2 linked regions of the Homo sapiens genome follow. The protein of the gene in region 1 interacts with the protein of each later gene in a biochemical or structural test. Each region holds a gene or a part of one and is shown in the gene's direction. Other genes may lie near its edges. The genes, in order: ETFRF1 and ETFA.

Region 1 (7,310 bases):
GGACTACATGAAAGCTATTTGAGAAACACCTCTAAGTAACTCTACCCCCTTACTCCCATAGAAGACTAGAGGTTTATTTCTGGACAAAGTAATACTAGTCCCTGGACTGGGGCATCCTCAGGCATTCTAGAGAAGCACACTGGAAACAAAGTTAAGTGAATTTAGGAATACATAATGCTGGATGCAGGGCCCGCATTCCTCTTATCCTTAGAAGACTGGAAGACTCAACTCTGAGGAACTGACCAGCCCAGGAGGAGCAATCCAAGATAGTGACATCAGAGGTTCCCCAGTAAAGGCCCACCCAGAGCACCCTAAGTGAAGCCCAGAGTCTATATGCTTCACCCACGTATACAGATCTAAAAAGCTTTTTTGTCTTTTCATTCATAAGAGTAGACAGAAAAGAATGACCAGACTTTGGAAGAAAGCTCAGAAGTGATAGAGACAGAAGCAAGCAGAAAAGCAATTTGAAGTAAAACAGCTCAGAAGTGATAAGAGACAAAAGCAAGCAGAAAAGCAATTTGAAGTAAAACAACAGAAAATTTCAAGAAAGCAAGAATCAGTGAACTTGGAAAGAAAAAATGCCTACATAATATGCTTGTTATGTGAATTAGCTCATTAACTAGTAGTAAGTACAATTTAACAAGTATTAATGTAGAAGTATTTTTTTCCCTAGGAAAGAGGAGCCAGAAAAGCAGTAAATGTATGACCTTCAGTTAAGAAAAGGTCATGGCTTCACTGCTATGCTGGCGGCAAGTGTCTTTCAGATTTTTTCATTGATTCAAGTGTATATTCCAGGGTTCCTTCCCCAGAGAGGCATACCCCAAGTTCTGTGTAGCCATCGACTGAGGACAGGTAGAGTCACCTATCCTACCCACGAATTGGCAGCCTTGTGGTTTAGATGGATTTCTACTTCCATGTGTTATTTCAGCATCTCTTAGCTCTGTTCTTAGACTTTGGCTGGCATTTCTATTATTTTTTTAAGTTTTGCTGAAGTAGAATTGACACTGAATTACACTTACAAAGTATAATTCGATAAATTTGGTTCATATATATACACATCTATATATGCATATTTATAGATATATATGTGCTATAATATATACTACATATAGTATAATATATAGTATACATATTTTTGTTTCCATAGAAACAAAAATAAAAGGAATTACTATGTACTATATACTATATATATCTACTATATACTACGTAGTATGTACTACATAGTACATATAGTACATATAGTACATACTGTACTATGTAGTATATAGTAATATATATAGTACATAACTATATATGTACTACATAGTACATACTATGTAGTATATGGTAGATATATATACCATAGTATACTATATACTAAAAATGGCTGGCTACCTCTGTTTGTCAATATATATTTTAATATATTTTTGCAAGTAATAGAAATGCCAGCAAAAGTCTAAGAACAGGGCTAAGTGGTGGGAAAACTACATACTATATACTATATAGTATCTATACTAATTATATAGATTTGTATATATACATATATGTATACATACACACACACACACACACACACACACACAATGAAGCCATCACCACAATCAAGACAATAAATATATCCACTATCCACAAAGGTTGCCTTGTGCATCTTTGATTCCTTCCTGGTCTCCAGCCCCTACTCCCATTCCCAGGCTACTCTATTATAATTTTTGAGTATTTTTAACATCTCTATAGTAGTCTCCAGCTATGCTGAGAGCAATCTGAGTGGTCAAAATTAACTGTCCAGGAAGAGCAGAAATGAACAACTCAGTAGAACACTTGGAAGAAGAAAATGAGAAAATCCCCCATACAACTAAATAAAAGGCTGGGCGCAGAGGCACACACCTGTTATCCCAGCACTTTGGGAAACCAAGGAGAGTGGATCACCTCAGGTCAGGAGTTCGAGACCAGCCTGGCCAACATGGTGAAAAGCCATCTCTACTAAAAATACATAAATTAGCCATGCTTAGTGGCAGGCACCTGTAATTCCAGCTACTTGGGAGGCTGAGGCAGGAGAATCACTTGAACCCAGGAGGCGGAGGTTGCAATGAGTTGAGATCAGGCCATTGCTCTCCAGCGTGGGTGATAAGAGCGAAACTCCATGCTTAAAAAAAAAAGACAAATGGAAAATAGTACAGAAAAAAGGAAGAGAACATGTTTAGAAGTTCAAACATCCAAATAATAAAAGTTCCAGGAAGGGAGAAAAAAGAAAATGGAGGAGGGAGGAAATCATGAATGAAATCATTTAAAATTTTTTCCCAAATTGAAGGAAACAAGTGTCCAGATTGCAAGGGCCAACTGAGTGTCCAGTACAATGGATAAAAATAAATCCATTATCAACACATCACTAACATTTCAAAATCTTCATGGAGAAGATTCTGTAAGTTTCTGGGGAGAGAGAGAAAAAATACATCACATACAGAGGATCACTTACCAGGACTGCTTTGAACTTAATAGCAATGGTAAAAGCAAACAGACGAGCAACTACTTCAAAATGTTGAAAAGAAAATTATTTCCAGCTTTCAATTCTATACTCAGACAAGCTATCAAACAGATAGAGGGAGCCAGCCATTTTTAGACATCCAGGGTCTCATTTACCTTCCATGTACCCTTTTCAAGAAGTTAGGATGTGCTCCACAGAAACAAAAATAAAACCAGGAAATGGAACACTTTGGAATGTAGAAAATGGGATAATCAACATAGAGGATAGGCAAGAGGAATTTCTGGGAGCATGGTCAAGTAGGATTCCAGCACCACAGTTGTGCTTCTTGATGTAGAGAGCAGTCAGTCCAGAATCAAGCAGCATGACTCACATTGATGGCTATTATCACTAAGATCCCTGCTGCCATTGTATCATCTTTTTAATCTGAGGACATTATGCCCAGGCAAGCCTGGCTCAGATTCTTACCGGTATTTGCCTTGTCTTGACCATGTGGTGATGAAATTCCTGCTCTCTTCTGTGCTGTGCTGACTGGACCAACTGAGGACACTCATTTTTACCCTTCTTTTTCAACCTATTCCTGAAAGCTGATGTTGGGCGTTGGTGAGCTTAAAGCAGAAAATAGCCTTCCTCCTTCCCATTTTTGCTATGTATTGGCCAGAAATCAGGTATCAATTCTACACTTTGATCTTTCCACATGCTTCAGTTGTGAGGAGCCCAGTATTCACTCATGACATTGCAAATTAACTTCTCTAGAAGGGATCCAGAAAGCCTGGAGAAGGTAAAGCCAGACTAGGGCTGTTTGGCTTTAATTAACAGCAGCATTGTTGCCCTTTTCCTTGCTAGATTCGTGCTTGCTGCTCAAATTGCCAAAATTAAATATTTAGGGCAATGTTCATGAGTGCTGGGAAAACTAAAGAGAATAAGCAGGAAGTCATTAGAGGCTATCTTGGTAGAGATGGGGAAGGAGAAGCAATTGGAGAGGGGCACATGGGGGCTTCTAAGACTTTTGTTTCATAACTTGAATGATGGGTACCCAGATGTATATTTTACTTTAATTTGTACATTCATATTTTATGCAGTTTCTATGTCTAATACGTATAAAAATTTCAGATTAAATGAAATACATGAAGGCACTGGCACCCTGCCTTTCAAATTGTAAAAGGTGTAAATTTTGCAAAATGCCTAAAGGGGCAGGTGAGGTCACAATGAGAATCTACACTATTGTACTTCGGGGTTCAACCCAAACAGAAGTTAACAGGAGAACTTAAATTATGTAGCGCATGATTTTTAATTGAGTATGGTACTGTAATTTTAATCCACATTTTCTGCTAGTTAACTATAAAATAACCCTTAAAACTGATCTAAAAGCCTATTTTAAAAATATAAGTTGCGGCCGGGCACGGTGGCTCACGCCTGTAATCCCAGCACTTTGGGAGGCCAAGGTGGGTGGATCACAAGGTGAGGAGATCAAGACCATCCCGGCCAACATGGTGAAACCCCGTCTCTACTGAAATACAAAAAAAAAAAAAAAAAAAATTAGCCAGGCGTGGTGGCGCGCACACGTAGTCCCAGCTTACTGGGGAGACTGAGGCAGGGGAATTGCTTGAACCAGGGAGGTGGAGGTTGCAGTGAGCTGAGATGGCACCACTGCACTCCAGCTTGGGGACAGAGCAAGAATCCATCTCAAAAAAAAAAAAGTTGCTTCCTGCTTGCCTATCAGAGTAATTCAGTCCAAAAGTCATTACGTGGGGCTGAGCAAGGCAGGCATCTGGGGAAGGTGGGGGCGAGAGAAAGGCTGGCAAGGTAGTAGCCCAGCAGGGGATACTGGAGCCCAAATGCAGTGAGGAGGGCCTCTGGGGGTAGGGACTTGTGCACAGCAGCAGCCTAGCAGGGGATGAGGAGGGCATCCTATTAGGGTGAAGGAAATGGTGGCACAGGTTTTTGGAATGGGAACAAAAGGTGAGCCTTACCCAGGAGGGAGGAAATGGTGCAGTGTAAGTTGCTTGAGCCCAAGAAGGGTAGGTTGGGGGAAAGGGGGAAGAGAAGACCATGCATGTGGGATGGTGGCAGTGGCACTCTGGCATTAGGTGGCAGAGCTCAGAGAGTAGAGTGTGTGCGCCGAATGGTGACAGCAAGAGGATTTTGATTACATAGTGAGAGAAGGGGTGATGATTATAAAAAGTAAATTTATTAAGGACAAGTGGGAACCAGACTTCTCACTGTTCAGCAAGAGTATTAAACCCATGTAAAGAGGGGAAATGAAAATAAACCCTGTAGTATTGGAATTGAATGTTAGGTAGCAGATTATATGGAGATTAATATAAAAGTCATACACACATACAACACCTAAATCCGTATGTATATACACTTGCAGCTTTGTCACTTAGAGGACCTGGGAACAGTGACAGTCCCATGGTGATTAGCATTTTTAGCACCCAGACCTTGGTTTCTAAAGCATTCCATCCAGATTATAGTTTCTAAATGCTATTCTCCATTAAAAGGACTAGGTTCCTTGGAGAAATAATTTTACAATGGACAATCTTAGCAAATACATTAATTGGGTAATCAAAGTTATCAATCACAATGGAACAAATTGCAGTTGCATCCACCTGATAGGATGCAATGTTAAGAGCTTACTATTCAACTCTAACAGGTAGTGGGAATTATTTTCTAGGTTTAGACTGTCATGATGCCTTTAAGTTTGGAGCCTCCTCTACAAAGTAGAGTTAACACATTACACATAAAGAAGCATGATTTTGCCTGTTCCTCAGGGACACCCTCTTACAGGTTGTTCATTTGGCCTCTTCACCACCAATCTTACTGCCCATCTACTATTCCAACCTGCTTAACTCACCCAGTTTCTGCTAGTTTTCAGCCTCCCTTTGGATAAGCACCCATCAGCATTTGATCAGGCTTCTGCTCAATGTCCTTCAAGTGGCTCTGGCCTTGCCTTGAGAGCAGGGTAAAGATAATCTCTTGTTTGTTGATAAGGAAAACTCAGGCTCAGCAAGGTTAATTAATCTGTACATTATGCAACTGGAATTTAAATCTAGTTTAACTCATTCCACTGTGGCATAAAAGGAGGTACACGTACCTATCTGTGATGACAATCCACTTTCTCATTTCCTTCATGTGACTTCTCACAATCACAATTGTCTTTGCTTATGTCTCCCATAGGAAAACGTCAATTATGACAGCAGGTAATTTTATCGGAAGTGTTTATAACTATATCCCAGTACGTGGAACGAAAAAGTTATCAAGAAATATTTATTGAATGTAAAAAAGGTTACCATTTTCTCAATGTGTATAACCTTTTTTTATTTTTTTAAGACTACAATGCAGCTAATTGCAAAAAAATTTTCCTTTCTTTAGGTATGTTATGCATAAAAGTGGATAATTTACATGATAAATGAAAATGGCCAATTCTTTAAGAGGAGAAGTACTAAAACTTTATAAAAATGTAAGTAATTATGTTGCCAATTTTATAAAAATGTTATTATATGACATGGATTGTTTAGAAATATATAATCTTTCTTTTTGAAGCTGCTGTATCTTGGACGAGACTATCCAAAAGGAGCAGACTATTTTAAAAAGCGTTTGAAGAACATTTTCCTTAAAAACAAAGATGTGAAGAATCCAGAGAAGATCAAAGAACTTATTGCACAGGGCGAATTTGTAATGAAAGAGCTAGAAGCTTTGTACTTCCTTAGGAAATACAGAGCTATGAAACAACGCTATTATTCAGATACCAACAAAACTAATTGATCATTACTACTTTAATTTAGCTATCAGTGCCAGCTGTTTATGTATACCAGATGTTGTAAAATAATTCTAACTTAAAATGGGAAGATATACATGTTGTGTAAAAAATCCCTGAGCTGCCCTACTGAACTAAATAGGTTTCAACTTCTGTTCATACGGAGAAAGTATCAGCAACTTTATGCTCAATTTTGATACAAACATAGCAATTTAGCTATACTACCGATCATAAATTAATGAGCACCCAATTTTGAATGAAAATATAATACACTTAATCCTCTAACTTAATAGGACTTAGCCAATTATTTTTAGCTTATTTCTCCATTTTACTGACAAGAGAATGCCATTTACCGAACATTTAATAAGCAAAATAATTTCTTACACACTTACTTCTCTTAACTTTTGAAAGGAATCCCTTATTTTTTCACCCAATTTGGTATATTAACAGCACATACTCAAGGTTCACTACAAAACAAACAGTTCCTGGTAATGATTTAAATGTAGTTATAGAAATAAATAATATGTATGGAGTCATTACTTCTGACCTTGAAATAGCCTGCTGGTGACTGGCATTAACATACATAACTAACTATTCAATTATTTCCATTATTAATGTTGCTGCTGCTACCTTTGGGCCTAAAACCAAGTCACCTGTTGTGTATCAATTACCTTCTTTGATAAAAGGAAATAAATAAATAATGTTATCCTATTTTTTTGTCATAAAGGCAGATTTGTTTTGCATCTACTTCTAAATATGGTTTTAAGTTTAAGCAAACACGCCTTTACATAATATCCACAGCACCTTTTAGAAATAAAGGATACTTCTAACAAGCTGCATAAAAGATTCACTGGTATACTATAGTGTCTATGGCTTATAAAGTATTCCATATCCATTTCGGGGCAAACAGTTCAAATTTCATGAATAAATACACACTCATAGTCACTGTAACTATTTTTATTACATTACAATAATTAGGAGTAGTACAGTTCATGACAAAAATATTACAAATTTTAGATCACTTCACAGCACATACTCCTATAAACATTTAAAAGTTAATTTCAATTAAAAGAGTGGTCATTTTTAATGTTT
Region 2 (2,927 bases), on another chromosome or scaffold:
GTCACAAAGCAGCTCTACACTGGAAGCTCCAGTTGCAGCCACTGCACTGCCACGACTAAGGGTTAGTAATTAATCCTTTTTAAAATGGGAGCCAACTCAGGCCATTTCCCCTTGCTGTGGTTTCTTACTGTGTCTGCTGACCGGCCACTGCATTAGCACACAAGGTCTTGATTTTAATAAAGAGTGATGATATTGAATGTTCAGCATGTAGCACATTTCTGTGTGCCAGATGATAGTAGCATGCTGCTGAAAAAGCAACCAATATGTTTGTGAAATGAACAATGAATGAATGAACGAACAGTGAGAGAACAAGTATAAAGGAGGTTGGCAGGAGTCATAATTGCAGTAAGCTAGAGACTTTGGTGTGGACTTGGAAGGAAAGTCAGGAATGCAGTTAAGGGTGGGAAGAATGCCAAGCAAAACATGAAGGTAAATACACAGTACTCTTCACCCAGACAAGAAAAATTGGGCTTCCTGTTTCTAGGGTGCCTTCTTGAAATTTGTGGTTGGGTCACAAAGCCAAAAGGTAGCAGTGTGTGCAGTGGTTCACGCCTGTAATCTCAACACTTTGGGAGGCTGAGGCAGGCAGATCACTTGAGCCCAGGAGTTCGAGACTAGCCTGGGCAACATGACGATACCCCATCTCTACAAGAATTAGACAGGTTGGTGGCTACTTGGGAGGCTGAGGTGGGAGGAGTGATTGACCCCAGGAGGTAGATGCTGCAGTGAGCCATAATTGTACCACTGCACTGCAGCCTGGGTGACAGAGTGAGAGCCTGTCTCAAAAAAAAAAAAAAAAAAAAAAAGGCAAAAGGCACCTAGGCAATGAGTGGGCTGTAAGCCCTGTCAGCCCTGGGTCCTGGGTAGTCGCCCTGGGTGGGAAGAGAGACTACCGGAGAACAGGGGGTTCCTGGTGGAGAGGAGGGGGCCCTCGTGCCTCAACAGTGATTTGTGTTGTTTCTTTTGGCCTCCCTGTAATGCTTACGGAGCTGTGACCATATCACAGTGAAGGCTCTAGTTGCTTAATTACTTTTTGTTTTTATTTGCAGGTAGTTCCTGAAATGACTGAGATATTGAAGAAAAAATGAATCAGGATCATGCCTTAAAAAGAAAACTTTTGTTAAAGTATTCCACTGAAATCACAGATATTTGTGGGTATTATAACAATCATTGGAAAGCATGGAGAGCTACATTTCATAATTTGAGGGAAAATTTCTAACAGATGCCAGAATGCTTGTTTATGGGATTGCTGTGTTTCCTTTTAATTATTTGTGGTTCCAAACAATTATTGTTTGAACTTTTTAAATTCTGTACTAAAATCTATAATAAAGCTTTTCCACAGCTTTAAAACTATCAGAAATATGCCTAGCCTCTAGAGAAAATTGAAGAAAAGGAGTAAAAATTTTGTTTATTTATTTATTTTTTTGCCTTTCTTGTTCATGGAGAGCTCTATGTTTTAGGAAGATTGTAAACATGATTGTCTCCACCAGCCTAATCAACCTACTAATCTCATTGTTGAAGGGCAAACTTCATAGGAGAAGGTAACTGAATTGGCAAGTGCAGAGTTAAAAAAGCACGGCTATAAAGCATGAATATTATCTTAAACATACTCCAGTCTTCAGAAGACCATAGCTAATGTGACAAAAGCAGACCTGACTTAAACCTGACCCAGCTCCATGTATTTAGTTGGCTTAAGGTAAATTTCATTTTCCGTTTAATTTTAAGGTTTTGTCAGTTTATAGGACTTTTGTCTGTAAAGGAGGGAGAGTGGAGGAGGGGCTGCTTTGAGACAGCATGGCCTCTGATGCAAGCAGATAGTTTGATGTTATTATAAACATTCAAAATCCTGTGCAGAGAATGCTCTAGCCTTTCTTTTGCCTTCTGTTGGCTTCTTTTGGGCTCTCTTAGGAAGCACCCAGGCCTGTGTAGTCACCTCTGGCACTCTCATTCTGCTGCCCAGGGCACAGCTGAGGTCCAAGAGTGTCACCAGGGCTGCAGCTGGTGTGGATGCAGGCCCAAGAGCAGAGGCTGGTGAGGCTTTGAACAGGCCTGCAGGAAGGCGTGGGTAGGTAGGTGAGTAGAACAAAGAGGGCTGCCCTCCTGAATCAGATCTGCAGAAGTAGGAGTAGTGACCTGGATCAAGCAGACAGTAGGGAAGAGAAGGGAAGTGATAAGTGATGGAGGTGGCTAGAGTGCCTTTGTGTGACCAGCCTGGGGCCCTTCCCCAGCTGACTAGTGAACCCTTTCTGATTTGTGTCACAATCAGTTGCTATAAAACACTTTTAAAAGTTGTATCTTTGGCATTTCAGTCTTCTTTTAATGAGATGAGAGGAGAGCAGTAGAATGATGCCTCTTTGCAAGTAATGTCTGTTAGAATAGAAGAATCCTAGAATGTCTGAGCCCGGTGATTATCTGGTCAGACCCCTTGTTGTATAGATGGGCATACTGAAGCACAGAGAAGTGAAGAAGGTAAAGTGACTTGGCCAAGGCCACATGGCTTGAATCACCTTTGGGAGAGTAATTCCTATGTCTTGTTTTTATCTGTGAGGTTCTTCCTAAGAGGGCTAACCTTGCTCAAGATTTTTTCCATTTACCCCTCATCCCTGTTGGATGCTATAACTGGGGGACAGGAGAGATGGCAAAGGTGATGGCCACAGAGGCACCCCCAGTAGAAGGTGTGCTGGCTCAGGGAGGGACATCCCAGGTGGTGCCTCGGCTCAGAGTTGAACTGGTTGGTCTTTCTCCCTTTGCTCCCTCCTGTCATGGCTGCCCTGCCTCAGCCCCAAGCAGCTGTTCACTGGACTAGTATTTACAGCTCATCATCATCATAGCATTAAGTATAATGCTTACTATATACCAGGCACTGTTCTAGCACTTTATACATATTAAACCCCTTCAGTTCTCACAGCACCCTGTAAGTTAGATGC

The links.
Region 2: the proteins of ETFRF1 (region 1) and ETFA form a complex in vitro, tested with the Homo sapiens proteins (one study listed by BioGRID).

What each region holds. Positions count from the first base shown.
Region 1 is NC_000012.12:25,198,087-25,205,396, forward strand, and holds the end of ETFRF1 (electron transfer flavoprotein regulatory factor 1), read left to right. Parts: exon of another isoform or gene 1-5,746; intron 5,747-5,833; 5' UTR 5,834-5,870; coding exon 5,871-5,921; intron 5,922-6,004; coding exon 6,005-6,226; 3' UTR 6,227-7,057; downstream 7,058-7,310. UniProt on the Homo sapiens protein: Acts as a regulator of the electron transfer flavoprotein by promoting the removal of flavin from the ETF holoenzyme (composed of ETFA and ETFB).
Region 2 is NC_000015.10:76,214,720-76,217,646, reverse strand, and holds the end of ETFA (electron transfer flavoprotein subunit alpha, mitochondrial), read left to right. Parts: intron 1-1,049; coding exon 1,050-1,088; 3' UTR 1,089-2,294; downstream 2,295-2,927. UniProt on the Homo sapiens protein: Heterodimeric electron transfer flavoprotein that accepts electrons from several mitochondrial dehydrogenases, including acyl-CoA dehydrogenases, glutaryl-CoA and sarcosine dehydrogenase.